Homo sapiens: one gene and its partner. The protein of the gene in region 2 purifies or fractionates together with the protein of the main gene of each other region. This does not show direct contact. Each region holds a gene or a part of one and is shown on either strand. Other genes may lie near its edges.

Evidence for each region.
Region 1: the proteins of ATF1 (region 2) and MYO1D purify together in Homo sapiens (co-immunoprecipitation; one large-scale study listed by IntAct). This does not show direct contact.

The regions. Positions count from the first base shown.
Region 1 is NC_000017.11:32,758,474-32,762,135, reverse strand, and holds part of MYO1D (unconventional myosin-Id), read left to right. Parts: intron 1-1,508; coding exon 1,509-1,654; intron 1,655-1,731; coding exon 1,732-1,846; intron 1,847-2,009; coding exon of another isoform or gene 2,010-2,024; exon of another isoform or gene 2,025-2,324; intron 2,325-3,662. UniProt on the Homo sapiens protein: Unconventional myosin that functions as actin-based motor protein with ATPase activity. Plays a role in endosomal protein trafficking, and especially in the transfer of cargo proteins from early to recycling endosomes.
Region 2 is NC_000012.12:50,815,957-50,818,899, reverse strand, and holds part of ATF1 (cyclic AMP-dependent transcription factor ATF-1), read right to left. Parts: intron 1-2,943.

The DNA of each region.
Region 1 (3,662 bases), on a different chromosome or scaffold from region 2:
CCTTCTGGTCTCAAGTATCACTTTCCCAGAGAGGCCTTCCCTAACCTTCCTGAGCACTGCATAGATTAAATTTCCCTAAGACCCCATGTACCTCTCCTTTAGTGTGGATGTTTATCTGCGAGGTGGGGGGCAAGTGAGAGAGACAGAGAGAATAATTTTTTCCTTCACTCTATTCCCTAAGTTTCTTGGACATTGAGACTATGTTTGTGTTTGCCTAGACCTGTATCTCTAACAAACTATATATAATAAGTATTCAGCAAATATTTGTTGAATAAATCAGTGAATTTCTAAGTGGTGCTATTTATTTGTGGCTAAAAGTAGGATAGGAACAGTTGTTGGAAGAGGAAAGATCAAGAGTCCTTTGAGTTTGAGATGGCTGTGAGCCATTGAAGAGTCAGTGTCAGGTAGACAGTCAAGCTCTTGAGTCAGGAGCTCAGAGACTGTTCTCTGAGTCTGGATTTGGATAATACTTTTGGGAGTCATATTATATTTGTATTATTTAATCCTGGGTGAGATGATTTAGAAGGTGCTAGAGAGTGAAGAGAAGAGGACCAGGAAGAACTCCAACTTTTACAAGTCAGGTAGAAGAGGAGACTCTACCAAAGGTCACCAAAAAGGAACATCCAGTGAACAAAGAGTAAAATTCAGAAAGGCTATTATCCGAAATCCAGAGAGAAGAGTGTTCCAAGAAGGCAGTGAAAACCTAGGTTGAGTGATGCTGAGCGACAGAGCAAGATGTCCATATGAGGTACGAGAAGTATCTATGTAGAGGTGCTGGGAGTCTTTGATGAGCCATTTCAATGGAGTAATAGGATGTAAGTGGAGACTGGAGTGGATTGAAGAGTAAAGGGGAGGTAATGGATATGGGTGAAGAGAGTGGGTAGCTGGCAGGAGACGTTAAGGAAGGTTTTCTAACGATGTGACGTTGCAGAGCACATGTGTATCGGGATGTGAATGTGTGTTAGCGTGTGGCACCTTTGTCCATGTGTGGCTTAGTGTGTGTGTTCTTGTGCATTGGATGTGTGTTCGATTCTCAGGGAATTTCAACCCTTGATCTTTGGCTCAGATCTTCATTTAGCATTAGAAATCAATATTTATATTTTTTAGAATTCATATAGCTTTAGTGGATCATAGATATTAACTCACTAGCTCTCAACTCTTTATAGTTGATGAAATTAATAATAAAGCAATGAACTGGCTTATTCAAGGGATCAGGCAAACTATTGATATAGCCGGGCAGGGAAACATGCCTGGAGAGTGTCGTTGGAATTGGTATAATGACCGGTAATAATCTTTTAAAAATACAAGCTATTTACTTTAGTTTTGCATACATCAGGTAGTTTGGGTTTTTTTAAATGGACAGTCTACATTTTCATTTGTTCTGCTGAGGCCAGTAATGGCTATGCTAAACAGTGAGAAGGTGGACAGGAATTTAAAACTGATCACAAATCCAAACAGAGGACTCATTCCCAAATTGGCAAGCATTTATGATGCTATTTTCCTTGCAGGCAATATATGAGCGCCTTTTTTGTTGGATCGTTACTCGCATCAATGATATTATTGAGGTCAAGAACTATGACACCACAATCCATGGGAAAAACACTGTTATTGGTGTCTTGGATATCTATGGCTTTGAAATCTTTGACAACAACAGGTAAACTGGAAAAGATACTTAAAACCTTGTTGCCTGTTTTCTATTTGTTGAAACTTAATTTATTCCTTTTCTTGTAGTTTTGAACAATTCTGTATCAATTACTGCAATGAGAAACTGCAGCAGCTATTTATTCAGCTGGTTCTGAAGCAAGAACAAGAGGAATACCAGCGGGAAGGGATCCCCTGGAAACATGTGAGTGGACTCTTATGGAAAATGCCTTCATGTGTTTCTCATATTATTGATAATGTCAAATTTTATTTTAGGTATTTCTTGATCTTTTGGGGGTATTTGAAACATCTGAACCTTAGCTTTCCTTTTTGGGATATGTAAATACAATTAATTTCATCATTTTTAGGTGGGATTGCTATAATTTGATAGACTGCCTTGTTGATGCCCAGAACATCCTGAGTTAGAACCAGTAAACCTGTTTTCACTTTATGGCTGCTACCACGTGGACTTACTGGTTTATATCTGTCTGTTAGGTTTAGCATACTTTATTAAGTTATACCTTAAATTGGCTGAACTTTGCTTCAGAATCTAGTTTCTTCTTCCCTTTTTCCTCCTTTTTCTCCTCTTCTACTTTGTAGACTATATGGTATTTTATTGTCTTCAGTTAATGTTGTTTATATTCTCTGAAACCTACACATTAAAATACTTGTTTTACTTTGCATTTTCTTGTGTATTACACTTCAATTATCACCTCTACTCTAATCAATCTTTGGGAACTTTTGTATTTGTCAGAGGCAAACTAATCTGGTAAGATATAGCTGGAAAGTATAATGGGTGCACAGTGCAAACCACAGAGATCAAAGCTAAAAGGCATGACTTGTTTGGTTTTTAAATTTCCTGTGATAAGACCTTCTGTTTATGATAGAAATGAGACATAGTAATTTTTCTTGTAAGTTTGTATTTTTAAGCAATTTTGAGAATAAACTTGAAAAATACAAAAACTTTTAAGTTTCTGTAGTTTGAGTTTATATGATTGTTCATCCTCTTGCCAGAGAATAGAAATGAAGCCAGTATTTGTTTTTTGTTATCCAATATAATAGCAGCAAAAAAATATTTGAAATACTATATTTAAATGACTTTTATCTTCCTTCCTACCTATTTTCTATTTCCTCTCATTCTGAAATAAAGAGACAGTGATATAACAAATAGCTTTCCCGCCTCAAAATTGTATCTGCCTTCCATCATGTGTTAAACGTTAGAATACCATAAAACAGTTGCTCAGGTATATTGGCATAAATTTTACCTATCTGCATATAAACCAAAGGGCTATTTTATATAAGAATTATCTATAGTTTGACTTAAATAATGAACTCTCCTAATACAATTAAAATTTAATTCAGTTCAATTAAGTGTATATGAAGCTTTCTAAGAATGAAACTGTTGTATAATATAATACACGGTATAACTGAAGCTTGGATTTTTAATACCAAATTTAATCATAAAACTTGTTATTCAAATGTGATTCCAAGGTACTAGTCAAAAATATCCTTTCACAATCAGAATATCAAATTTCACAGACATAATTGACAACAGGGTAAGTAATGCAGTGGACTGTTCCAAACATCTCAAAAAGAATTAAGAATCCCAAAATGCAAAAAATTTTCGCTAAATAAACCAAGAACTATTTGTCCTAGAGGGAGCAGAAGGCTAACTCCAAGGTAACAGTTACTTACTACATGGCAGATCCCCCCACAATTAGAATCTCTATTCTGGGTAAAACCCCAAACTTCTAAACATAGTGATTCTTTTTAAAAGATTTTTTATTATGGAAAATTTTAAACACACATTAAGAAGACAGACTATAGTACAGTAAACCCTATATACCCATCACCTGGCTTTAACACGTACCAGTTGATTGCCAGTCTTATGCCATCTGTACTATACCCACCTACTCCCAGATTATTTTGAAGCAAATTTCAGATATCACATTATTTCATCTATTCAATTGGGTATCTATTCAGTAAATATTTCCATGTATTTCTCTAAGAGAGTTTTACAA
Region 2 (2,943 bases):
GCATGGTGGCTCATGCCTGTAATCCCAGCACTTTAAGAGGCCAAGGCGGGCAGATCACCTGAGGTCAGGAGTTCGAGACCAGCCTGGCCAACATGGCAAAACCTCATCTCTACTAAAAATACAAAAATTAGCTGTGGTGGCACATGCCTGTAATCCCAGCTACTTGGGAGTCTGACCCAGGAGGATCACTTGAAGCTGGGAGGTGGAGGTTGCAGTGAGCCAAGATCGCGCCACTGCACTCCACCCTGGGCAACAGAGCAAGACTCTGTCTCAGAAAAAGAAAGAAAGAAAGAAACAGTACTATTTTAAGATTTTTATGCTATATATGTAGATACTATTTGCAACTTGCTTTTTAGTACACATCTTTAAAAGGACTGTACAAAATCTTTCCCCTCACAAAAAGACTTTATTTTTACCTTTAAGCTCTGTTTGTTTGTTTGTTTTAAGTGGTTTCCAGTAAACATTCTTTTTCTTTTTTCTTCTTTTGTTTTGAGACAGGGTCTCACTCTGTCAACCAGGCTGAGTGCAGTGGCACAATCACAGCTCATTGCAACCTTGACCTCCTGGACTCAAGATATCCCCACTTCAGCCTCTCAAGTAGCTGGGACTACAGGTGTACACCACCACACCAGCTAATTTTATTTTTGTAGAGATGAGGTCTCAGTATGTTGCCTAGGCTGGTCTCACTCCTGGTCACGGTGTCGGGATTATGGGCATGAGCCACCCACTCAGCCTCCATTCTTTACGTGTATTTCTACACATGTATTTCTTGAAGGATCACAAGCTATATTCACTTAAAGTCAAGAGATAGTGCCAATTTATATTCATTGAAGTACAGAGAAATAAGGGGGGAAAAAAGGAAGGAAAAAAATCCCAGAGTCAAACCAGAAAGAAAAAAGGGAAAAAATGCCAGAATGTCCTCCAGAGTATTTGTACCATTTACATTCCCAGGGGCAGTACATGAGAGTGCCTGTTATGAACATTTTAAAATGGTTGTCAGTCTAGCGGCTGACAAAAAGCGAACCTCACTGCTTTAACATTTCCCTCATTATGCACAAAGTTTGGAATAATTTCATGTTTACAAGGCCATCTTTCACAGACCGGTTTCCTTCTGTTAGGTCTCTTATTTACAGAAATAAATCTTTATATAACCTATACATCTCGTAATTCTTTCTCTTTATATAAAAGTTGCAAATATTTTTCCCAGTTAACAGACTTATTTTTAAGTTTCTTTATGGTATCTTTTGTCACATACAAGTAGAAATGTTGGGGCAAGTAGATACCATAAAACTCCGTACTTCCCTCAGTAATGTATGTGAGGTACCCTTTTCCTTATATGCCCAATGACAGACAGTATTACCACTTTATAATTTTTGCTACGTGACATCTCATTTCTTATTTTTATAGTTGTAGTATATACGTATATGACCCTAAAACTGCTATCATTTATTTTCTAAAATTATAAAATATCATACTTTGTGTATTCTGTTGCAACTTGTTTTTTCATTCAATTTTTCTAAGATTTATTCATGTTGAAATGATTATTCATTCAGTCATTACAAATAAACATTCCATTCTATAAATACAGTCACAATTTATGTACCTATTCTTTTTTCCCCCCATTTTTATGTTTAGGCTCAATATGTACCTATTCTGTTATCAATGAATCTTGAGGTTGTTTCCTGATTTTTTGCTGCTATGAAAATTCTTATACATACTTCCTCCAAGTTCCTCTCAGTCACACAGACTAAAACAGCTGGGTCACAGAGTATACCCACGTCAACTGTACAAGATAAGGCCTAATTTCCAAAATGGCTGCATCAATTTACACTCCTATAGTAGTATCTATGAATTCCTGACCATTGTTCCAAATCCTTGCCAACTCTTGGTTAGACTTTAAAATTTTTGCCAATTGGGTGGGTATAAAGGGTATCTAAATGTGTAGCATTAATGTGTATTTCTTTGATTACTAATAAGGCTGAGTAGTCTTTTATATGATTATTAACTACTTGTGTGTTTTTTTTTGTTTGTTTTATTTTTGAGACAAGAGTCTTGCTCTGTTGCCCAGGCTGAAGTACAATGGCGTGATCATGGCTCACTGCAACCTCTGCCTCCAGGTTCAAGTGATTCTCCTGCCTCTACCACATCTAGCTAATGTTTTAAATTTTTTTTAGAGATGGGGTCTCCCTATATTGCCCAGGCTGGTCTCAAACTCCTGGGCTCAAGTGATCCTCCTGCCTTGGCCTCCGAAAATGCTGGGATTACACGTGTGAGCCACCACGCCTGGCCTGTATGGTTTTTTCCATTAAAATGTTTCTGTGCATATTTATGGAGCACATGAGAAAATCTGTTACATGTATATAATGTGTAGCGATCAAGTCAGGGGATTCAGGGTGTCCATCACCTGAGTATTAATAGGTTTTTGTTAAGGGTGGTCATCCTACTCTGCTATGAAACACTGAATTTATTCCTTTTATCTTACTGTGTATGGGTTTGTACCCTTTAACTCTCTTCATCCTCCTCCTTGCCCCTCACCGTTCCCAGTCTCTGTTACCTATTTTTCCATTCTCTCTTTTTTCTTGAGATAGGGTCTTGCTCTGTTGCCCAGGCTGAAGTGCAGTGGTGCGATCATGCTGCCTCAACCCCCTGGGCTCAAGCAATCCTCCCACCTCAGCCTCCCGAGTAGCTGGGATTTTAGGCACACGCCACCATGCCTGGCTAATTTTTTATCTTTTGTAGCAATGGGTATGTTGCCCAGGCTTGCATTGAACTCCTAGGCTCAAGTGATCCTCCCGCCTCGGCCTCCCAAAGTGCTGGGATTACAGGCATAAGCCACCACGCCCAGCCCTATTTTTCCACTCTCTACTTCCATGTGTTCAAATATTTTAGCTCCCACATATAAGTGAGAATGTGATATTTTTTCTTTTTGTGCCTGGCTTATTT